Linked DNA regions of Homo sapiens. The protein of the gene in region 5 purifies or fractionates together with the protein of the main gene of each other region. This does not show direct contact. Each region holds a gene or a part of one and is shown on either strand. Other genes may lie near its edges. The genes, in order: FASTKD1, CPT2, NDUFA10, NDUFAF1, AMACR, CYP24A1 and COQ8B.

Region 1 (3,500 bases), on a different chromosome or scaffold from region 5:
TCAAGAAGTGACTCAGGAAACGTGTTTCCTTTGAGAGATTTAAGTTCCTTCCGTAACAGATCCAAACTGTTGCTGTGTTGTAGTCTCTGACGACCATAGTGATCTAATTTTTGAAGTAGTTTCAGTTGTTTCGCAGTCATATTATCCAAATACATGTGATCATGCTGAATCCATCTTAAAACAGATGTGGCAAAACTACTCAGGTTATTTAGGTCACACTGTGGTAAAACGGCTTCAATTCGGGATATCCCCACTTCGTCCAAGTGAGGAGAAGGGAGCAGGGAAATAGCACGGACCAGAACAGACACCTCAGTTGGTATGAAACTATTTTTCAAATAACTGCAAAATGAAAAATGAAAAGAATACATCAGCAACAAACCCAAAATATATATGTATTAAAATATGAATACATATGAGTACAATTAATAGGTAAGATGATGATTCAAAAAAACCTCTTTCAAACTATGTTTCTCCTCTAATCTCAAACCACAACAATCATCAACCACAGAAGACTTCTGTGACCAAATGTGTGGGAGTTCTTCCAAGCAGCGGATACCAACTGGGTGTCCAATTCAGTTCTGACACAATCTACCTGGGGACAGTGTCAGATCCCACAGGTTGGGAACTTGGTCTCTAAGACTAACCTCTCCCACAAAAACCCCAGACTCCACTTGCAAAAGTAGGCCTCCAGAACTTCTGAGCAACCGGCTTCAAGTTGGGTTTCCCATGACCTCCTCTTTGGGTTTGATTAATTTGCTGGAGTGATTCACAGAACTCAGGGAAGCAGTTGTTTATGTTTACAGGTTTATTATAAATGATATTATAAAGAATGCAGATGAAGGGACAGTAGGGTGAGGTATGCGGGAAGGGGTGCAGAGCTTCCATGCCCTCCCTGACCATGCCACCCTCCAGGAACCTCCACGTGTTCGGCTATCCGGAAGCAGTCCAAACCCAGTCTTCTTGGGTTTTTATGAGCTTCGTGACATCAACATTTCCTCACACAGGGTGTAGGGTGGGATCTCTCAGGGGAGCGTCTTAAGACCCACGATCAGAAAGGTGGAGGGAGATTAGAGTCCTGCTTTGGGGCAGGAGAGAGATTCTCTTTCCAGAGGCCTAACATACCCAACATTGTTAACAAAAGGCTATAGCAAGAGCTATAGAAGTTATGAACTAGTAACTAGGACAAAAGCCAATATATATAACATCACAGGTGGGCATAATACAAGTTAATTTAAGAAGAGTTAGATAGGCCAGGCACGGTGGCTCATGTCTGTAATCCCAGCACTTTGGGAGGCCAAGGACAGGGGTTCGAGACCAGTCTGGCCAACATGGTGAAACGCTGTCTCTACTAAAAACACAAAAAAATTAGCTTAGCCAGGCATGGTGATGTGCACCTGTAATCCCAGCTACTCAGGAGGTTGAGGCAGGGGAATCTCTTGAACCAGGGAGGTGGAGGTTGCAGTGAGCCAAGATCGTGCCACTGCACTCCAGCCTGGGCGACAGAGGAAGACTCCATCTCAAAAAAAAAAAAAAAAAAAAAAAAAAAAAAAAGAGTTTGATAAATTCAAAGATGACAGGTCCATAAAGGATTATTCAGGAAAGCCTAAGACTTCCTGATGCCCTCCGTCTCAAAAAAAAAAAAACAAAACAAAAACAAAAAGAAAAGAAAAGAAAAAAAAATCTTTAAGTATAGAAATAGTGGAAGGAATAAAGGAATAAAACAGGAAGACCTGTTCTGAAGCACAGGCCAAAATTTTTTATTCAAAAATAAAACCACAGTCCCAGGGAAACAAAAGGTCCATGTCAGAACAATGTTTCCAGTGCTGTCGCTGAAGAAAGAACTTGGGTTCAATTTCTGATATCACCTGTCAGGCCCTGGCATGCAGTGATCACGTAATAAAATTGGTTCCTTTTTTGTTTCCGATACACAGTCCAACATTTAAAACAAATGAATAAACAAACAACAACAAAAGAAACAGGACATAGTTGACCTCATTCTCTACTTCATTCCGAAATCCCCATGGCAAGAGTCCCACCACCAGGACAATAATTGTTAAAAAAAAAAAAAAAAATTGAAAAACTGGGGCCGGGCATGGTGGCTCACACCTTTAATTCCAGCATTTTGAGAGGCCAAGGCGGGGGATAGCTTGAGCTCAGAAGTTCGAGACTAGCCTGGCCAACATAATGAAACCCCATCTCTACTGAAAATACAAAAAATTAGCCGGGCGTGGTGGCACATGCCTGTAATCCTAGCTACTGGGGAGGCTAAGGCATGAGAATCGCTTGAACCCGGGAGGCGGAGGTTGCAGTGAGCCGAGATCACGCCACTGCACTCCAGCCTGGGTGACAGAGCAAGACTCCGCCTCAAAAAAAAAAAAAAAAAAAAAAAAACTTTAGGTATAGAAGTAGTGGAAGGAATAATACAATCTAAATTAAAACAAAATTGAGGCTGGGCGCGGTAGCTCACTCCTGTAATCCCAGCACTTTGGGAGGCCAAGGCGGGCAGATCACGAGGTCAGGAGATCGAGACCATTCTGGCTAACATGGTGAAACACCGTCTCTACTAAAAATACAAAAAAGAGTTAGCCGGGCATGGTGGTGGGTGCCTGTAGTCCCAGCTACTCAGGAGGCTGAGACAGGAGAATGGCGTGAACCCGGGAGGCGGAGCTTGCAGTGAGCCGAGATGGCACCACTGCACTCCAGCCTGGGCGACAGAGCGAGACTCCATCTCAAAAAATTAAATAAATAGCTGGGCGTGGTGGCTCACGCCTGTAATCCCATCCCTTTGGGAGGCCGAGGTGGGCGGATTACCTGAGGTCGGGAGTTCGAGACCAGCCTAACCAACATGGAAAAACCCCGTCTCTACTAAAAATACAAAAAAGTTAGCCAGGTGGGGTGGCGCATGTAATGCGCTGTAATCCCAGCTACTCGGGCGGCTGAGGCAGGAGAATCGGTTGAACCTGGGAGGCGGAGGTTGCGGTGAGCCGAGATTGTGCCACTGCACTCCAGCCTGGGCAACAAGAGCGAAACTCCATCTCAAAAAAAAATTAAAAATAAAAATAAATAAATAAATACATTGAGTTACTTTTAAAATATTTTTTAAATTAATTTTTTTCTGGAGACAGGGTCTCACTCTGTTGCCCAGGCTAGAGGGCAGTGGCGTAATATAGCTCATTGCAGCCTTGACCTCCTGGGCTCAAGTACTCCTCCTGCCTCAGCCTCTCTACACACTGGGGATATAGGTACATGCCACCACGCCCAGCTAATTTTTTGTTTTTTGTTGTGGAGACAGGGTCTTGCTTTATTGCCCAGGCTGGTCTTGAACTCCTGGGCTCAAACAATCCTCCCAGCTCAGTCTCCCAAAGTCCTGGGATTACAAGCATGAGCCACTATGCCTGGCCATTTAAAATATTTAAATTAGCATACTAAAATAATCGTAATATTAATACTCAGTGTTAGCAAGGGTGTACTGATACAGGCATTCTCATTCACTATTAGTA
Region 2 (3,500 bases), on a different chromosome or scaffold from region 5:
ATTAACTCAAAATTACAAGCCAAAGTCTCATCTGAGTAAAGGCAAGTTCCTTCTGCCTATGAGTCTGTAAAATCAAAAACCAATTAGTTATTTTCAAGATACACTGGTGTTACAAGCATTGGGTAAATGCTCCCATTCCAAAAGGGAGAAATTGGCCAAAACAGAGGGGCTACAGGCCCCACGCAAGCCTGAAATCCAGCAGGGCAGCCATTAAATCTTAAAGCTCCAAAATAATCTTTGACTCCATGTCTCACATCCAGGGCATGCTGATGTAAGAAGTGGGCTCCCAAGGCCTTTGGTAGCCCTGCCCCTGTGGCTCTGCAGAGTACAGCCCCATGGTTGCTTTTACAGGCTGGCATTGAATGCCTGTGGCTTTTCCAGGCACATGGTGCAAACTGTCGGTGGATCTACCATTCTGGGGTCTGAAGGGCAGTGGCCCTCTTCTCACAGTTCCACTAGGCTCCCCATTGGGAACTCTGTGTGGGGGCTCTAACCCCATATTTCCCATCTGCATTGCCCTAGTAGAGGATCTCCATGAGGGCTTCACCCCTGCAGCAGACTTCTGCCTGGACATCCAGGTGTTTCCATATAGCCTCTGAAATGTAGGAGGAGGTTGTCTCTTTTTTTTTTTTTTTTTTTTTGAAATGGAGTCTTGCTCTGTCACCCAGACTGGAGTGCAGTGGTGCTATCTTGGCTCACTGCAAGCTCTGCCTCCTGGGTTCACGCTATTCTCCTGCCTCAGCCTCCCCAGCAGCTGGGACACAGGTGCACGCCACCACACCCGGCTAATTTTTTTTGTATTTTTAATACAGACAGGGTTTCACCATGTTAGCCAGGATGGTCTCGATCTCCTGACCTTGTGATCCACCCGCCTTGGCCTCCCAAAGTGCTGGGATTACAGGCGTGAGCCACCGCACCCGGCCGGACGAGGTTTTCAAACCTCAACTCTTGTTTTCTGCACACCTGCATGCCCAACACCATGGGGAAGCCTCCAATGCTTGGGGCTTGCACCCTCTGAAGCAATGGCCAGAGCTGTGCCTTGGCCCCTTTTAGCCATGGCTGGAGCTGGAGTGCCTGGGACACAGGGCACCATGTCCCGAGGCTGCACAGAACAGCAGGGCCCAGGAAACCATTTTTCCCTCTTAGGCCTCTGGGCCTATGCTGGGAGGGGCTACTGTAAAGATCTCTGAAATGCCCTCAAGACATTCTCCCCATTGTCTTGGCTATTAACATTTGGCTTCTCATTACTTATGCAAATTTCTGCAGCTTGTGGCTTGAATTTCTCCCCAGAAAATGGGTTTTTCTTTTCTACTGCATGGTCAGGCTGCAAATTGTCCAAACTTTTATGCTCTGCTTCCCTTTTAAACATAAGTCCCACTTTCACATCATCTCTCTGTGAATGCATATGACCATATGCTTTCAGAAAAAGCCATCTTGAATGCTTTGTTGCTTAGAAGTTTCTTCTGTCAGACACCCTAAATCACCCCTCTCAAGTTCAAAGTTCTGCAGATCTCTAGGACAGGGACAAAATGCCACCAGTCTCTCTGCTAAAGCACAGTAGAGTGACCTTTGCTCCAGTTCCCAATAAGTTCCTCATCTCCATCTGAGACCACCTCAGCCTGGACTTCATTGTCCATATCTCTATCAGCATTTTGGTCAAAACCATTCAACTCTCTAAGAAGTTCCAAACTGTCTGACATCTTCCTGTCTTCTTCTGACCCCTCCAAACTGTTCCAACCTCTGCCTATTAACCAGTTCCAAAGTTGTTTCCACATTTTCAGGTATCTTTGTAGCAATGCCCCCCTCCTGGTACCAGTTTTCTATATTAGTCCATTTTCACACTGCTATAAAGAACCACCTGAGACTGGGTAATTTATAAAGAAAAGAGGTCTAATTGACTGACAGTTCCTTGTGGCTGGGGAGGCCTCAGGAAACTTACAATCACAGCGCAAGGTGAAGGGGAAGCAAGGCACATCTTATGTGGCAGCAGGAGAGAAAGCGAACAAGTGGGGGAACTGCTGAACACTTTTTAACTATCAGAGCTCGTGAGAAACCACTAACTATCATGAGAACAGCATGGGGAAAACTGCCCCCATGATCCAATCACCTCCCTCCAGGTCCCTCCTTCAACACGTGGGGATTACAATTCAAGATGAGATTTGGGTGGGGACATAGAGCCAAACCATATCAATCACATTAGAGCAAAGCCTGTAACTGACAAGCCTCACCCCCATCCACATAGCTTCCAAGAGCTTTTTAATATCTCACTCATATCGAAGACAACACAGGATTATGAAGCATCTGAAGAAAGAAAAGGGCAAAGCAAACAGAAGAAAAGCAACTTGGAGGCAACAGACTATGAAGAGAGAAGAGATCTTAAAAAAAAATTATCAGAGATAAACTATTTTTAAAAAGAACACCATAAGAAGAAAAAAGAGCTTGTGGAAGTAAAAAATAGGAAAGCAGGAGTTTTAAAAACAGGTTGAGAGATTAAAATTAAGTAAGTCTCCCAAGAAAATGTAACAAAAAGAGTAAGAGATGAAAAATGTGAGAGAAAAGAAAATTAGAGGATGAGACCCAGAAATTCTACACCTGAATAATAATAGAGTTCCACAAAGAAAAAACAGAGAAAAAAAATGGAGAGGAAGAAAGCCAAAGAAATAAAACAAGGAAATATCCCAGACCTGAAGGATGAGATTCCAGATTCAAAGGACTCACAGAGTGGCCCAACACATACTAAAACACATTACCTGAAATTTCAAAACACTGGGGACAAAGAGAAAATTCTAAAAAGCTTCCAAAGGCAGAGAGAAGAAGTAGTCAAAAGATTAAGTCTCAGAATAACATTAGATTTACCAACAGCAACACTGGATGCTAAAAGACAATGGAGCAAAGCCTCCAAAATTCTGTGGGAAAATAATTTCAAACCCAGCCAAACAAATTATCAATGAAGTATAAGGGCCATTTTAAAATTTTTGCTTCCCATATTCTGTTTCCAGATAGTACAGGGAATATGTGCTCTGATTTAAAAAAAAAAAAAAAGAAAAAGAAAAAGCCAAGAAATAAGAAAATATGAAAGACAAGAAACACGAGTCCCAACATGAGAGAGAGATGACAGATGCCCCAGCTGATGGTGAAAGAGCACAGGAGAGCAGCTTCACAGTAGGCCAAGAGGTTCACAAATCCAGACTACAGCATGTCGCAAGTTCTGGAAGAAGTTTCGTCAAGAAGACCAAAAGGGATAGAATGTCCAATCTGCTTTCATGTATTGAGAGGAGATTCAGACAGCTTGGGAAGAGTCTGGGGGTAAATTAGTAAGCACATAGAAAACTAAACAAGAGAAAAGATGGAACAATTATTAACTTCAGAGAAAACAAAAAGTTTGTACTGGAAAGGAAAAACAATCCCAATATGCTACATGAGTCAGCTGACAATAGTGTTTCTATGATCATAATAGCATAAAACTAGATACTGAGTTACCCAAAATTACAAATCCCTAT
Region 3 (3,500 bases), on a different chromosome or scaffold from region 5:
AGCTGCCATATACTTTAAAATGAGAGGTCGACGCGCACTCTGTGAGAACATACTAATTACCTCCAGGAGGGCACCAAGCCATTCATGAAGGATCTACTCCCATGACCTAAACACCACCCACCAGACCCCACCTCCAACAGGGGATCAGATTTCTACATGAGATCTGGAGGGACAGACATCCTAACTACATCAATGCCCATCTAAAGGCGGGGGGGAGGGTGGCACAGCCAGCCTCCAGCTTTCTGGCCCAGGATACAGTGTGGATACAGACGGTTTTGTTTGGGTGCCAGGAGAATTCTGGGACACACACAAAAAAAGAAAAACCCAGCTCCTTCAGGAGTTTGAAATCTGAAGAGAGACTGAGATGAAAGCCCAGGTCATTCAGCCAGTGATGCCAAGACAGCCCAGGGGGTTTGGTATTGTGGGATCCCAGGAGGGGGCGCAGGCAGCTAGTCTGGCAGAGTCCAGGGAGGCGTCAGGAGAGTGAGGGACCCTCCAGGGCCAGGGGGATCCCCCAACACTGCTGCTCGAACTACAGGTGTCTACAAGTGGCAGGAAGACCGCAAGAGAGGGACGTGACTTTCTGGCTTCACAGTCTGACAAGACCTTTGGCCTAAGTTGTGACCTGTGTCAGACGGGCTGTAGGTGCTATTTCTAGACCGGGGAGCAGTGACGGGCACCTGGGGCTGGCCTCAAAGGGCCTGACGGGGTCAGGAAGGCCTGGGTGAGAGAGAGAAAGAGCTGGTCAGCCCCAGGGAAGGTAAGTGTCCGGTCTGCTTATAGAATATGTGCAGGGTGTGGGGGCTACATGGCGGGTTGCCCCATAGAGATGACCCGTGGGCAGTTGGAAACCTGCGTCTGTGGCTTAGAAGACAGGGCTGTGCAGCCACCTCCCAGTAACTGAGGGAGGCAGCGCCATGTGAGCCGACCATCCAGGGTGCTGGACAAGAGAAGAGGCCAAAGAGCAGCACTGCATGGCTGAGGCCTGAGGCTGCAGAGGGACTGAGGAGTGAGGCACACAGGCCACCGGAGGAGCTGGGTGTGACCACGCGTGACATACGGGGCCTCGCGTCACGGTCACCAGATGGCCACTAGCTCTGCACGAAGACAGGAGGAGCGGGGTGGGAAAAGACCACACTAGCGGGGAAGCAGTCAGCAGCTGAGGAAGGGGACACAACACCTGGGCCACCTTTCACACGCCAGGTAATGGCACGTATGTCTATGCCTGCACGCCCATGCATGTGCAGGGGGCTGGTAGGCGGGGTCTCTGCATCAAGAAGTGGTGGAGATCTCTATCTCAAGATGCCCAGCCTCCAGAACCTGTGAACACATGAGCTCACCTGGCAAAAGGGCCTCTGCAGCAGGAGACTGGGAGATCATCTGGGTTATCTGGGTGGGCCCCAGGCCATCACTAGGGTCCTCAGAAATCAGAGAAGGAGATGTGACAATGGAAGCAACAGCCACAGTAATGTGGGGCCAGGTGCTGAGGAATGTGGGCGGCCTCTAGAAGCTGGAAAGGGAAAGGACACCAATCTCCCCTTGAGCCCCCGGAAGGAGCCAGCCCCGCCTGCACCGTGATTTTAGAACCTCTGCCTCCAGAACTTTAGGAGGATGCATGTGTATTGTTTTAAGCTGCTAGAGAGTGGTAGCTGGCAGCAGCAGCAGCAGACGACTCCTGCCGGGTGTCTGCTTTTTATGATGGGAGATACCGGGTCACATCTGTACACCAGGAAGAAAAAAACTGTGCAGGGGAACAGGTCGAGGATGCAGGAGAGTGTGGGTCAACCCCAAGAACACAAACCCGGAGGGAGGGGCAGGCCAGAGAGCTGTGAAAGCAGCAAGGCCCTCCAGGAACACTGCCGGCGAGGACACCTCCAGCAGAACCACACTCAAACACGACTGCCGCAGCCAGGAAACGGTAACGCTGTAGTTGGTTCCACATCTGAGAGGTGGTCCTGCCAGAAATTCATTTCTTTTTCCCTAAAGGACCAACTGCAGAATTAAGCCCAAAGAACAGAAAGTTGACACCTGAACAAAAGATCACCGAAAGGTTTTCCCGTTTAACCAACCTGCTGCAAACCCACACGACGGCCAGCAGGCGCCTCTCTTAAGACGCCCTGGGTCAGCTTCCCCAGGGTTTTTCAATTAAAGTTGTCATTTAATGTTTTACCCAAACACAGGACCAGCCACGCAGGTCTGTTCACAGCAGTACTGACAGAGGAAGGGCTGGGTTTGGGACAGTCTGGCTCCATTTTCATCTTTGCAAATAGAATTTTAAATCAGAGCAGATAATAGAAACTAGCAGAATACCAAACCTGCTAAGTCCAGCCAGTGGCCATTAATTGTCTCGGAAAGTTTGTGTCTGGACTTCTCAGGCAGCAGTTAACTGGCCTTTGATACCCAGGAGGGTTCTCAGATCCTGGGGTCTCTTTTCAGTGTTTTAGGCCAACAGAGAACCATGCGGGGGGGGAGGGGTTCATTTGCAGCATCTCACACCAGGAAAATGCAAAATCATCCACTTTGTTTACATGTCTACTTCACGTCTGTATCTGCTAATTTAAAATAAGCCTTCCACCCCCAAAACCCAGTGCTCATTCATCACATGAGAAAACGCGCATGATAACGCCTCAGGGAGGAAAGCAGCAAAGCCCGTTCCCTCGCAGGGCAGCCTCACTCCGGGAGCCGCAACGGGCCTCGTCAGACCTTCCTCCCGAGCCACGCTTTCCCGGATCTGCTCGTTCACGGTGCCCGGGTGCGTGACACCCATGTGTGTGGCTGTGCGTCCAAAGGTTGAGATGCAAAGGGCATGCGGTGAACTATCTCAGGTGAACTATCAAGGCCGTACACCCACTTTAAAATGAAAAGAAAATCATTTTCCTCCTGTCAGAAGTCAGGGCTTCTGCCGAGTATACACCGGGTGAGCAAACCAAGAATCCTTAAGGAGCAAAAGAAGAAAGAGCGCCTAACAGAAAAAGGAACAAACCCCTCCAATGCTCATCCTCTGCAATCCCCTCTACTGTACAATGCGAACGGAGTTTCCCTCGCTGGATCTCTAAATTCAAGGCATTTTGGACTCATTACATTCACAGGGCTCTGATAAGTTTAACACTTTCAGGAGGCTCTTTCCCTGTATTCCATTTTCCATTAGAAATCAAAAAGGAAGTTTACTGAAGGGAAAAAAAACCTCAATAAATTACAAAGCCAAACATTCCAAGTCCTCTTCCAGAGCCAAGCAGCTAAGCTGCCCTCCACCCATGACCCTGGCGTGTGTCAGTCCCTGGTGGCCCACCGGGAGTGTTCCAGGGCGAGGCCTGGAGCTGGGAAGGGATTTTAGACAGTGCACTGGGAGGCACCCTGCCCAGTCACCGACAACCTGGGCTGACTCAGTGTACAAACCAAGTTCCTTTCCCTAAGGGCTGCTGGTCACAGGGGGCTGGGCTGGAAATGACAACTCCCCCTGGCCCCCGATGGAGCCCAGACATGGAGGATGAGCAGGGTGG
Region 4 (2,822 bases), on a different chromosome or scaffold from region 5:
TTTTTAGTAGAGACGAGGTTTCACCATGCTGGTCAGGCTGGTCTCGAACTCCAGACCTTAAGTGATCCGCCCGTCTCAGCCTCCCAAAGTGCTGGGATTACAGGCGTGAGCCACAGTGCCTGGCCAGCAACAGCATTATAACTTGTCTTAGAGAATACATACTAGCCAGCCAGGCGCGGTGGCTCACATCTGTAATCCCAGCACTTTGGGAGGCCAAGGCGGGCGGATCACCTGAGGTCAGGAGTTCGAGACCAGCCTGACCAACATGGAGAAACCCTGTCTCTACTAAAAATACAAAATTAGCTGGGCATGATGGTGCATGCCTATAATCCCAGCTACTCGGGAAGCTGAGGCAGGAGAATAGCTTGAACCCAGAAGGCGAAGGTTACGGTGAGCCGAGATCACGCTACTGCACGCCAGCATGCCAGCCTGGGCGACAGAGCAGAACTCCATCTCAAAAAAAAAAAAAAAAAAGAGAGAGAATACATACTAGCCATTGGTTGGATGCCATTAAAGAAATATTTTATTTTGTCTATATCATTGTAGATGCTAGTACCCTTAGATTAGTAAAACAAAACTACCATATGATCTTTATTTAAAAAGCCTTGGGTTAAGCTCTGGAGAATTTTCATAGGCAAATTCTTCTGTATGAGCTGGATCAGTAAACACGCCAATAAAATCTATCTCCAGGAAGAATGGACCATCCACTTTATCAGCCAAGGTGAATCCTATAGAAGAGATCTAAATTTAAAATACAGAAATTGATTAAAATCTCATACAGTGACGTACTGAGATTATTCCAGGAGTTTAAAATCCCATCAGGTGATGATTATAACTGGGTTTTAATGCTATCAGCCCTTAGCAAATACTACTAATTCTCCCATAGCATACTGTAAGAGGAAATACAAGACTGCTTTTCTTTCCTCATTCAACTTCCTCCCCTCTCCTCATTAGGTAGTGCCACTTAAGACTAGGAAGGACGGCCGGGCGTCGTGGCTCAGGCCTGTAATCCCAACACTGGGAGGCCAAGGTGGGCAGATCACAAGGTCCAGTTAAAAACCAGCCTGCCCAATATGGTAAAACCTCGTCTCTACTAAGAATACAAAGATTAGCCAAGTGTGGTGGCAGGCACCTGTAATTCCAGCTACTCAGGAGACTGAGGCAGGAGAAATGCTTGAACCCGGGAGGTAGAGGTTGCAGTGAGCCGAGATCATGCCACTGCACTCCAGCCTGAGTGACAAAGCAAGACTCCATGTCAAAAAACAAAAAGACTAGTAAGGACGACATGAATGCCTAATGGAGTTCCTTGAAGCGTTCATAAACTCTTATTTTAAAGCTAAATTAGGAGAGAAGGGAGGGGGGAAAATAGCTAAAGTAAAATGTAGGCATGCTAAAAAATGATCCTTCTAAAATTCCTTCAGGATGGGGGTATGGTTCATAGGAGAGGTCTAAGTCAGCCTCTGGCTGGGTATAAGAGCAGTGGCCCTGAGAAGAAATATTCATCTGCCAGCCTTCTCAAATGAACTCAGTCTCCCCAGAGTTCCGATTCATTAAAAATGATACAGTTCTGAGTGAAAAATACAGGAATATGTTACCTTATCAAGCGGAAGCTCATGCTGAACATCCCGGATTCTTCCTCGATTAGAGAAGAAAAATTTGGAAAAAGGAATCTGAAAGAAGAAACCATTTACTTCATAACTGAAATGTAAGCAATTGAGGCATCTGCATGTAATTGTAACGATAAAATGAGTTTACATTTATTCTAAAATTATGTCATATATGTATTATGACAAATGGCTAGCCATTTGGATCAAAGATATAACTCAGGCCAAACGATAAAGGGTTAACTATGAAAAAAATATTTGTAACATTTATGGAAAAAAGACTAGTATCCTAAACACAGCTTTTTTTTTTTTTTCTTTCTGTGGAGAATGGGGTCTCACTTTGTTGCCTGAACCCGGGAGGTAGAGGTTGCAGTAAGCCAAGATCACACCACTGCACTTCAGCCTGGGCGATAGAGCTAGATTCTATCTCAGAAAAAAAAGAAAAAAGAATTTTAACGTTTCCCTTCCTTCCTACATTAGAAACTGAACTAAAAGAAATGTCCTATTCCTTCTACTCTTGAACTTTCAAGTGTGCCTTTTTATTCATCAACTTTATTTTCATATTTCTTCTCTATGTAATTTACTTATTATTAAGCACGATCTTTTAAAACTATATCTGGCTTTAATTGTTTGTGTTTTGTTTTGAGATAGGGTCTCACTCTGTTACCCAGGCTGGAGTGCAGTGGTGCCATCTTGGCTCACTGCAACTTCCACCTCCCAGGTTCAAGCGATTCTCCCACCTCAGCTTCCTGAGTAGCTGGGACTATAGGCGCACACCACCACACCCGGCTAATTTTTTTTTTTTTTTTTTTTTTGGTAGAGACGGTGTTTCACCATGTTAGCCAGGCTGGTCTTAAACTCCTGAGCTCAAGTAATCTGCCAACCTTGGCCTACAGGTATGAACCACCACACCCTGCCTAAATAATTATACAGAAGCTCTCCAGGATATATTCCTAAATTTTAAAAACACAAAAAACAGGTACAGAGTATGCTAATTTTATTTATATTTTGAGTTTAACAAAGGAAGAAAATGGCTGGGCCTGGTTGTGCATGCCTGTAATCCCAGCACTTTGGGAGGCCAACACAATAGGATCAACTGAGCCCAGGAGTTCAAGACCAGCCTGGGAAACACGGTGAAACCAAGACTCTAGTAAAAAAACAAAAAACTTATCCAGCCATGGTGGTGCATCCTTGTAGTCCTGGCTATTCAGGAGGCTA
Region 5 (3,500 bases):
AACCTTTAGGTGGAACTTAAAATACGTAAGGGGGCAGCTTTATGCTACAGTTAATTTAACAACGCTGTGCTCATCATGTGGGCTCAGATTGAGTGTAAATACAGCAAAACGCACTCCATATTCCAGAGTTATCTTAACTACAGTTTCCAAGGAAACAGCACTACAATAAGGCAGCCTCCAGCTCTTCACAGGCAGGCCCAGGTCTGGAATTCTGCTGCTAAACACTGTGAAAACTTTCGGCCCATTAGAAGGTATCTGCCTTCCCCTAATCAGCTTCTGCAATTGCCTGTGTCACAAGGGGTCCTAGTGATGAAGTAATGACTATGATTTACTGATTCTTTTAGCCTTGTGTAATTAGCAAACACTTACTAGCCCCTAATGGAAATATGAACCCAGAAGAAAGATTACAACATTTTCACATACCCTAAAACCTTACTATCTTCTTTATTTAATTTATTTATTTTGAAACACGGTCTCACTCTGTCACCCAGGCTGAAGTGTAGTAGTGTGGTCTCGGCTCACTGCAACCTCTGCCTCCTGGGTTCAAGCAATTCTCATGCCTCAGCCTCCCAGGGAGCTGGGACTGCAGACGCGTACCACCAAGCCCAGCTACTTTTTTGTATTTTAGTAGAGATGGGGTTTCACCATGTTGGCCAGGCTGGTCTCGAACTCCTGACCTCAGGTGATCCACCCACCTCAGCCTCCCAAAGTGCTGGGATTACAGGCGTGAGCCACCATGCCCAGCCAACCTTACTATCTTCTAATCATTATATAATTCTGATTAGCTACATTCTGCTGAAAGCAGCAATCACCTTTTATTTATATTTGATGATAATCAATTGCATCTCTTCAGTAAATTATTCAAATTATTACTAGAGAAGTATCTAGGCTCAAATTCTCCTTAACACTCCCAAGACTCCATGTTTGCTCTTAGTTCATTCCTTTTGGACCCCAGGGACCATGCTCTTGGGGCAGCAGGGGAAGTTGTTGAAAGCAGTGGCTTTAGGGTCCAACTGCCTGGGGCAGTGCTTCGGACCCTTTCCCGTCATCTGCTTTAGAGGAAGGCAGTTAACCTCGCCAAGCCTTCAAGTCTTCAATGCCAATGATAGTAGCACGTCTCCCTCAGGGAACTGTGTGGATCACAGAAGCCCTGTGGAAGGTACCGGTCTTGAGTTTGGCGGGTACTGGTATAAATCCGGTGCTGCTATCTCATGCAGCGACTATGCCATGAGTACGCCAAGAGCTGGCCCACAAAAGATAAACCACACTCCCCTGCTGCTGGTACACACTTCAGAGAGGGCACACTGGAAAGTGTGAGATGTGCCCTGATGACAGTGTCCCACAGGCACACACTCAGTACAGGGCTGGTCATGATTCACCATGAACAGGAGAAGGAAGCGCAGGCTGAAGCTTTGGAGATGAGGGGGTTTCTGGTAGAAAATGGATTTTGTGAAGATCAGCCAGGACCCAATCCAGTTGACACTCTCAGTCTCTAAACTCTTGAGGTATCCACCAACATTTGACCCTCTGACCACTCCTTTCTTTGGTTTCCATGACAACACTCCATTCTGCTTCTCTCCTTAGCTGTCCTCAGCCCTTGCTTCTCTTTTCTGCCCACGCATTCCTTAAATGCCGGTGTTCTATCCCCTTTCCTAGTGGATCACATAGTCTCATATGGCTCCCAAATAACTCCGAAATCTGTTTCTAGTCCCTAACCTCAAGTATCCCACCTGGATATCTGAAAGGCACTTTAAAACTGAAAAGACCAAAACTGAGTTCCTTTTCTTCTAGTAAAAATAACCACAATGACAAACTTTTACAGAGGGCCCACTGTACGCCAGGCACTGTTCCCACACTGAACAATGGATGAACTCATTGAATTCTCATAGCAACTAACAATGCTATGAGGTGGATGTCATTATTATCTCCATTTTACAAAGGAAACTACAGCACAGAGAGGTTAAGTAACTTGCCCAAGATCACAGAGCTAGTAAATGGCAGAGCTGGGACGGAGGTAGTCAGCTGCCACTCTATGCTCTGACCACTGTGTTCAGCAGTCTTCCCTCAAGACACTAGCAGGTCATCTAAGCCAGAAACCTGGGAGCCAGCCTCAACTTCTCCCTCTTCGCTCCCTGTCAGTCCATTATCAATTCCCAGCAATTTTATACCTCAAATGTCCCTTCAATGCAAACCAACTCTACCATTAACTGCTTTAGTACTTGCCCTGATCTCTTCAGCAATAACCCAGTCATTGGTCTCTGTACCTCCAGTCTTGTCTCCTCAGATCCATTCTCCATCCCACCTCCAAATGTCTGTGAAAATGCAAACACGCAGTGGTGGTGCTGGAGTGGGCTCTCTTACCCACTAGCTGTGAGATCTTGAGCAAATGGCAATGCTTCCGTTCCCTCCTCTTTAAAACAACAAGGTATTCCAAATGCAGTTTTGAGAATAAGAAGAAATCACACAGGGAATGTGCTCAGCAGAACATGAGGCAAGCACTCAGTGGATGACAGTGAACAAACAGAAGTGTTATGATATCAGAGCATCCCCTATAAAACGCAGCAGGAAGGTTTAGACAGGGAGGTCCATTTGACCTTAGCATTCCTAAGAATTTTCTCTACCAGCTGAGGGAGACTTCTTGAACTTTTTTTGAATGACGACTGCTTGAAAATGATATACTAAGCACAAGAGATACTTGGGGAAAATTGTTGAAATATTTAGGTTGGCAAATATTTGGCAAAACCTGCAATTACTTTTGCACCAACCTAAAACAACGTAGGAATCACATGAGTCACAGAAAGTTCAGAGAACTGACTCCAAGGACAGATGATCAAAATATGACATTCTAACAGATATATAAAAGACATAAGTCTATTTTAAAAAGAAAAGGATATCCTTGGTAACCTGGCTTGAAACTTCAAATGTCATTTATCTCTTGTCTTCTTCTTCAAAAAAAGGATTTTAAGCAGCTATATCTTAAACTTAGGGACAAGTGGCAGGCATCTACCCCAATTAATACTTACCATATTTGCATCAATGACCTGACCCTTGCCAGTGCGTGTGCGGTCAAAAAGAGCCATTATAATGCCCAGTGCACACATAAGGCCACCACCAGCAAAGTCAGCCAGGAGATTCAGCGGGGCATACGGATTCTCACCACTTCTGCCAATTTTTGAGAGAACACCTACATCATTAAAAACAAATTTAATGTCTCTTTTAAATTTAATCTCTTCTTAAAATAAATATGTGAGCATCTTAGAGGAATAATCAATCTCTCCAGCAGATAATCTAAGTGAAAGCTAGTATACATCACTTTTCCAAATCTGAGCTTAGTCAGTAAACTCATAAACAGGCTTTCCCTCAAGACAGGATCCTTGTTTTGTTGTTTTCCTCTCTAAAACCTATTCCAACCAACATTTTCAAATATTGCTAAGTTTTTACTCACTTACTTTTGGAAAAGAAAATGATTATTTATTTTGTGGTTTTAAAACAGTAAATGC
Region 6 (3,500 bases), on a different chromosome or scaffold from region 5:
GTTAGTCAGGCGTGGTATCGCACGCCTGCAATACCAGCACTTTGGGAGGCTGAGGTAAGTGGATCACCTGAGGTCAGCAGTTCGAGACCAGCCTGGGCAACATGGTGAAACCCCATCTGTACTAAAAAACACAAAAATCAGCCAGGCATGGTGGTGTGCACCTGTAGTCCCAGCTGCTCAGGATGCTGAGGCAGGAGAATCGCTTGAACCCAGGAGGTGGAGGTTGCAGTGAGCCGAGATCACGCCGCTGCACTCCAGCCTGGGGCAGAGTGAGAGTCTGTCTCAAATAAGTAATTAAAAAAAGTTACTTATATTTATCTATTTATGGCAATATTTCTGACCTTGAATTTATGGAAGTGTTATAGGTTTTCCTTCTATCCCTCCCATCAGCAGCCACAGTGATCCTCCCAGTAAATCTGCCCATATATCACACTGCTGCTGAATACATTCCCGCAGCTCCCGGTTACTTACAGGCTAAAATTCAAACTCCCGCTCATACAGCCCTCCATGAGCTGGCTGCTGGCCCTCTGCCAGCCTCTGTTACAGGATATGCTTGTCATTCCGCACTTCTTCTGCAGGGACACTCTCCTTCCTCCCTTTTCACCTGGTGAACTCCTACTCAACCATCAGGACTTAGCTGAGGGGCACCATCTCTGTGAAGCGACCCCTGGCCATGTCCGGCTTAGGTGGCCCTCTCAGATTCTCCCACAGCCCTGAATGTCCTCAGCCAGGCGCTGTCCCACCTGATCACAGCTGCCTGCTCTCCTCTTGCACCCCCATGGGCAGTGAGCTCTGCCCTTTATTTCCAGAGTAATCTTTGAAGAAAGCGGTCATGTCCTCCCTCCCTTACTTGCCCCATCTGAGTCAGATGAGAGGTAAAGTCTTGCCAGGACCTATGAGCTGTGCCCTGTTGGACACCTGCCTTCTTTTTGACCTCATCTCCTTTCACAGGCTCCCCTTCCTCCCAGCTTGTTCATCGTGATCCACTCACACCAGCAGCTTGAAGTTCCTCAAACTCGGCGCTCATGCTTCCACCTCCTGGCATTTGCACTTTCTTCTCTGCTGCCTGGAACAATCCTCCACAGGTACCCTCATGATTTGCTCCTTCCCTTCCTTTAGGACTTACCTCAAATGTCTTCTTACTAAAAAAGACTTGCCCCTCTTTCATTCTTTCATGTTATTTCTTTCTCTCTCTCTCTTTTCTTCTTTATTTCTTTTCTTTTTTCTTTCCTTTCTCTTTTTCTTTTCCTTCCCTCCTTCCTTCCTTCCTTCTCTCCCTCCTTCCTTCCTTCCCTCCCTCCCTTCTGCCTTCCCTCCCTCCCTCCCTCCCTCCTTCCTTCCTTCCCTCCCTCCCTCCCTTCTTCCTTCCTTCCTTCCTTCCTTCCTTCCTTCCTTCCTTCCTTCCTTTCTCTGTCTCTCTCTCTTTCTTGAGACGGGGTCTCACACTGTCACCCAGACTGCAATGCAGTGGTACAATCACGGCTCACTTTAGCTTCAGCGTCCCGGGGTCAAGCAATCCTCCCACCTCAGCCTCCCAAGTAGATGGGACTACAGGCATGTGCCACCAACCCTGACTAATTTTTGTATTTTTTGTAGAGACAAGGTTTTGCTGTGTTGCCCAAGCTGTTCTCAGATTCCTGGGCTGGCCTCAAGCGATCTGCCCACCTCAGCCTCCCAAAGTCCTGGGATTATAGGCATGTGCCACCATGCCTGCCTTTCATGTTCTTTCTTAACTCCCTTTCTCTTTTCCTTTACTCCTTGGAAGAGTATATTTTAAAATGTGTTTACTTGTTGACTGTCACCTTGTCTAGCATATAAGCTCCCCAAGGGTACAGGGGTTATGCGTTTCATTCATTGTCATATCCCTAGTACCTAGCACAGTGCCAGACACACAGCAAGTATTCAACAAATGTTTGTTGTATGACTCATTAACAATCCATAGTTCAAGGCATAACTTAAGCACCTAAAAGAAGCATTAAAAGGGCTGCTCTGGCCTTTCCCTAGGCAGCAATAATGCCTGTTTACAAAAGAGTTGTCAAAAGAGCCATGTTTTATCCGCAAAATCACCTGCAAAATCAGTGAGCAAGTCTGTGACGACAACTTACTTTCAAACGACCATTTGTTCAGTTCGCTGTACAAGTCTTCAACGTGGCCTCTTTCATCACAGAGCTCATCTATTCTGCCCATAAAATCGGCCAAGACCTTCAAAGAAAACAACCGCAAAAGACACATTTTAAAGCCGTTGAAGGAAAACAAAACTTTAAAGCTCACTGAGCTAACTTCAGGTCTTGCTACATCGCATATTCACTGGCCATAATGTTATTCATCCTGAAGTCACACTAATTATATATTCTCCCTGGGAACCCACCTTATCCCCTAATGACCTCGTCCTGGGTTATTTCCTGAGCTTTTCCTGAAGCCACCCTGAAGCTTAAGTTTCAGCTTTTGATCTAAAAATAATTCTGGCAATTTAAGAAAAGGAAAACATTTTTTTTTTCTAATCAGAATGGGGGAATAAAACCACAAAGGAATCAGCTAACTGTCCCTGTTGGCCCAGCATCTCAAGGATTGTGTTGCAGCAGCTATCCTGAGGTGTGCCCTTCCACATCTGGGCAAGCAAACGTCTCTTTATTGGTTGGTGGTTATGTTAAGCATGTTGAACTTGGAACCAGAAGATCTACCAATTCTGGACACAGCTCCTTCCCTAAGTAGTCTATGACCTTGGGATAGTCACATAAGACCTTTGGATGCCAGTTTCATAAACCAGAGTTTTCAATAACTAATGCCTCACATTTAATGAGGTCCATATGGTACCAAACACTGTACGAAGTGTATTGGTTGATCCTCTGACAACCAAGTAGTAGTAGGTACCGTCTCTACTCATTTCCCATGTAGTAGATGAGAAAGCTGAGGCTTAAAGAGGCCAAGTCACTCACTTATGCACACAGAGCTGATAAGTTGCCATCCTGGACCCTGCCGTGAGCTGGTGTGGCCATACAGCCCACATGTGTGGATTTAGTTTGCAAGTTTAATTTGCCCGCATAGCGCATTTAAAAGTTCTTTGAATTTGTTACCATTAAAAAAAACAAGAGGTTTCATATGAACATATGGATTTACCACTACTAGTTTAAAAATGTAAATAATAATTATGAGACTTGGTGACATGAGGTCTGCATTCTGACATGGCATTCGTTTGCTGGAACTGGGGCTGCTGTCCCTCCTGGGAGGGGCATGCACTATCACGTTTCCTGAAATTTTTACTGGGTCTGCCTTATTATTTTATATTAGTCATGTGAGCCCTGGAAGCTTCTGAGTTTGCAATCCTTCACCTATATGATCCCATCTGGGGACGCATCCAGTTCAAAATAAACATCCAAAGTGAACAGAAGTAAAAAGAGATTACTTTATGCTTAAAACTCCCTTTGACTCCGTGCTGGCTAAGGGATAATGTCCAAATACCTTAGTATAATACAAAAATATTGTTAAGACCTATCCAGTAT
Region 7 (3,500 bases), on a different chromosome or scaffold from region 5:
CTCTCCCCGCCTTGGTGTCCTTTCTGTCTCTGACACTCCCGCTCACAACGCCAGCACACCCTGCCCGTGCTCTCCTCTGGGCTCCCCCTCCTGCTTTCTCTCTCTGGGCATAGCCCCTTTGGGAGGTCAGCAGAGGAGTGGGTGGGCGCCTCACCCGCGGGCAGGGCCGCGCTCATCTTGAGTACCGCCAGCAGGTTCTGGACATCGCTCTGAATGCTCTGGGCTATGCCGGGGTACTGTAAAGGGAGAAGGGAGGGAGAGAAGGTGGGAGTCACTTCTCTGGGCTAGCAGGGTGCCCGCCCCTACCCTGCCCAGCCTCCCCTCTCACCTGGATCTTCACGGCCACCTCCGTCCCGTCCCTCAGCAGGCCCTGGTGCACCTGCCCAATTGAGGCAGCGGCAAAGGGCACCTCCTCCAAGGAGGCCACCTTGGCCTGCCAGTCCCTGCCGAGCTCCTCTTCAAGAACTCTCTGCGGGGAGTGGTCACAGCCATCATCATTGTGGCAGAGTTCATTCCCCAGGCTGAGTGCTTTACGTGTTGATAACCCCAGCACTCACCACATGCAGGGCCCTGGGCTAAGCTCTTGGCTGCCACCCCCTTTGCAGATGAGGAAACTGAGGCTCAGAGAGAGCTCCCTTGTGCAAGTGACTAGCCAGGCACTGGCAGACTGTGAGGCTCAGCCTAGCCTGTGTCCCCTGAACCTGGACTCCCTGGGCTGTTGTGGGGATTGCTATTATTTATAGTTAAGACTCATAACAATCCTTTTTTTTTTTTTTTTTTTGAGACAGGGTCTTGTTCTGTAGCCCAGGCTGGAGTGTAGTGGCACTCTCACGGCTCACTGCAGCATCAACCTCCCGAGCTCAAGCCATCCTCCTGCCTCCTGAATAGCTGGGACTACAGATATGTGCCACTGTGCCCAGCTAATTATTACTGTTATTATGTTTAGTAGAGACAAGGTCTCACTATGTTGCCCAGGGTGGTCTGGAAGTCCTGAGCTCAAATGATCCTCCCACCGCAGCCTCCCAAAGTGCTGGGATTACAGGCATGAGCCATTACACGTGGCCAACCATCCTTTATTATGCTCTTATATGTTATTATTAACTCACAGTTACTGTGATCAAGAAGAGCTAAAATTTACAATGGGCTTCCTGTGGGCCAGGTCCTATTCAGAGTGGCCCAGAGAGAGGCAGTACCTGCCTGGGGCCGCATGGCGAATAAGCAGAACAGGGATGGGAGAGCAGGTGGGTGGCGGAATCCTGGATTCCATGCCTTACCCAGTTATTAGAACAGCTCATGTCCTGGGCACTTACTTGGTGCCAGGCGCCGTGCCAACCTATTACAGACACGATCTCCTTTAATTAAAAAAACAGTAATAATCACAGCTAACACCTGCATGTTGCTCACAGTGAATCAGGGGCCGTTCTCAGTGCTCAGTGTAAACTGATTTATGTGACCCTATGATGTGGGTGTGGCTGTCACTATCGCCATTTCCCAGGGAAGGGAACTGAAGCACAGAGAGGTCAGGCTGCTGTTCCCTGTTTTAATCACCACAGCAATGCTAGGAGGTGTGTACTCTGGTGATTCCCATTTTACAGATGGGGAAAGTGAGGCTCAGAGGCAGGGAGTGGGGCAGTGAAGCCAGGAAGGTCAGGCAGGTCAGAGGAGATGGAGCCTGCCTCCCTCACCGCCCTCCCCCACTGGGCACTCACCAGCATCTGCCAGCGGGGCATGAAGTCGGCGCTCTGGCGGACCCGCTCAAAGATGTGCTGCAGCTGAGGGCTGATGAAGCTGTTGTCTTGGGAGACAGTGGAACCAGGGGGGAAGTAAGCGAAGAGGTGAGGAGGGACCCCGTGTGAGTATCTGAAGTTGGGGCCTGTTGGTGGGTAGGGCTGGGGTAGAAGGGAGGTCAGGGGTCAGGAGTCGAGGGTCATGCTGTACCCTGGATGCTGAGCATCTGGCCAACCTTGAGGGCGGCCCCTCGAACTGTACATAAGGTCTGCACAATCCGCTCGGCATTGGCCTCCGACAGGAAGGGGCTGGAGTCCAGCCCAGAACCACCCTCTGGGGAGAGAACAACCATTAGAATTATAACCACAAATATCATCACTGCGGCCAGGCCCGGCGGCCCACGCCTGTAATCCCAGCACTTTGGGAGACCCAGGCGGGATGAACACAGGAGTCTGAGACCAGTCTGGGCAACAGTGACATCCTTTCTCTATTAAAAAAAATATATATCATCTGCACACCAACAGGAATGGCTAAAACGAAATACGGAGGCCAGGCTTGTTGGCTCGCGCCTATAATCCCAACACTGGGAGGTCAATGCAGGAGGATGGCTTGAGTCAAGGAGTTCCAGACCAGCCTGGATAACAAAGCAAGACCCTGTCTCTAATTAGCTGGGTGTATGGTGGCATGTGCCTGTAGTCCCAGCTACTCAGGAGGCTGAGGCAGGAGGATTGCTTGAGCCCTGGAGGTTGAGGCTGCAATGAACTGTGATCGCACCATTGCACTCCAGCCTGGGCAACCAAGCAATACCCTGTCTCGGGAAAAAAAAAAAAAAAAGAAAAGAAAGAAAGAAAAATAAACATAAGTTAAAACAAATTGCAGGAGAGTCAAAGAGTAACTACTACAGTATTGAATAGATGAGCTATCACTACACACAACAGCCCAGGTGGGTCTCAAAAATGTAATGCTGAGTGAAAGCAGCCGGGTGCATGAAATCATCACCCAGTTACACTGATATAAAGAGCAAAACAAGGCCAAACAAATCCAGGGTCCAGGAGCCAAGACAGAGGTCACCCTTGGTGAGGGGAGTGACCAGGTGGGGACATGAGAAGGGCAACGATTCTCGAAATGTGGGCCAGGGACCCCTGAGGGTCCCTGAGACCATTCAGAGGGGTCTGAGAGATCAAACTATTTTTATCGTAACATTAAGATGTTATTTTCCCCTTTCTGCTCTCATGCGTCTAAGAACATTCACTGGAGTTCTCCAGAGGCTCCAGGACATGTGAGGACACCATCAGACTGACAGCTGATGGAATGTGTACGTGTGTACTCTTGTGTTTTAAAAATATCTCTGTATTTTTGTTGTGTTTTTGAGACAGTGTCTCACTCTATCACCCAGGCTGGAGTGCAGCGGCACAATCATGGCTCACTGCAACCTCCTGGGCCCAAGTGATCCTCCTGCCTTAACCTCCTGAGTAGCTGGGACTACAGGTATGCACCACCATGCTTGGCTAATATTTTTACTTTCTGTAAAAATGGGGCCTCGCTATGTCACTCAGACTGGTCTCAAATTCCTGACCTCAAGGGATCCTCCCGCCCCAGCTTCCCAAAGTGTTGGGATTACAGGCGTAAGCCACCGCACCTGGCCTAAAAATTTCTCAGTTTTAATTTCTAATATGGTAGACATTGATAACTATAATCCACATAAATAAGCTCTTTGGAGGCTCATTCTAACAGTTTTATTGAGAAATAATTCACATACTGTTATAATTCAC

Evidence for each region.
Region 1: the proteins of AMACR (region 5) and FASTKD1 purify together in Homo sapiens (affinity purification with mass spectrometry; one large-scale study listed by BioGRID and IntAct). This does not show direct contact.
Region 2: the proteins of AMACR (region 5) and CPT2 purify together in Homo sapiens (affinity purification with mass spectrometry; one large-scale study listed by BioGRID and IntAct). This does not show direct contact.
Region 3: the proteins of AMACR (region 5) and NDUFA10 purify together in Homo sapiens (affinity purification with mass spectrometry; one large-scale study listed by BioGRID and IntAct). This does not show direct contact.
Region 4: the proteins of AMACR (region 5) and NDUFAF1 purify together in Homo sapiens (affinity purification with mass spectrometry; one large-scale study listed by BioGRID and IntAct). This does not show direct contact.
Region 6: the proteins of AMACR (region 5) and CYP24A1 purify together in Homo sapiens (affinity purification with mass spectrometry; one large-scale study listed by BioGRID and IntAct). This does not show direct contact.
Region 7: the proteins of AMACR (region 5) and COQ8B purify together in Homo sapiens (affinity purification with mass spectrometry; one large-scale study listed by BioGRID and IntAct). This does not show direct contact.

What each region holds. Positions count from the first base shown.
Region 1 is NC_000002.12:169,546,366-169,549,865, forward strand, and holds part of FASTKD1 (FAST kinase domain-containing protein 1, mitochondrial), read right to left. Parts: intron 340-3,500; coding exon 1-339. UniProt on the Homo sapiens protein: Involved in the down-regulation of mitochondrial MT-ND3 mRNA levels which leads to decreased respiratory complex I abundance and activity.
Region 2 is NC_000001.11:53,203,324-53,206,823, reverse strand, and holds part of CPT2 (carnitine O-palmitoyltransferase 2, mitochondrial isoform 1 precursor), read right to left. Parts: intron 1-3,500. UniProt on the Homo sapiens protein: Involved in the intramitochondrial synthesis of acylcarnitines from accumulated acyl-CoA metabolites.
Region 3 is NC_000002.12:239,962,843-239,966,342, forward strand, and holds part of NDUFA10 (NADH dehydrogenase [ubiquinone] 1 alpha subcomplex subunit 10, mitochondrial isoform 1 precursor), read right to left. Parts: intron 1-3,500. UniProt on the Homo sapiens protein: Accessory subunit of the mitochondrial membrane respiratory chain NADH dehydrogenase (Complex I), that is believed not to be involved in catalysis. Complex I functions in the transfer of electrons from NADH to the respiratory chain.
Region 4 is NC_000015.10:41,386,853-41,389,674, forward strand, and holds the end of NDUFAF1 (complex I intermediate-associated protein 30, mitochondrial precursor), read right to left. Parts: intron 1,671-2,822; coding exon 1,596-1,670; intron 742-1,595; coding exon 592-741; 3' UTR 501-591; downstream 1-500. UniProt on the Homo sapiens protein: As part of the MCIA complex, involved in the assembly of the mitochondrial complex I.
Region 5 is NC_000005.10:34,001,551-34,005,050, forward strand, and holds part of AMACR (alpha-methylacyl-CoA racemase), read right to left. Parts: intron 3,185-3,500; coding exon 3,024-3,184; intron 1-3,023. UniProt on the Homo sapiens protein: Catalyzes the interconversion of (R)- and (S)-stereoisomers of alpha-methyl-branched-chain fatty acyl-CoA esters.
Region 6 is NC_000020.11:54,167,487-54,170,986, forward strand, and holds part of CYP24A1 (1,25-dihydroxyvitamin D(3) 24-hydroxylase, mitochondrial isoform 1 precursor), read right to left. Parts: intron 2,203-3,500; coding exon 2,106-2,202; intron 1-2,105.
Region 7 is NC_000019.10:40,703,387-40,706,886, forward strand, and holds part of COQ8B (atypical kinase COQ8B, mitochondrial), read right to left. Parts: intron 2,062-3,500; coding exon 1,939-2,061; intron 1,796-1,938; coding exon 1,710-1,795; intron 470-1,709; coding exon 329-469; intron 237-328; coding exon 155-236; intron 1-154.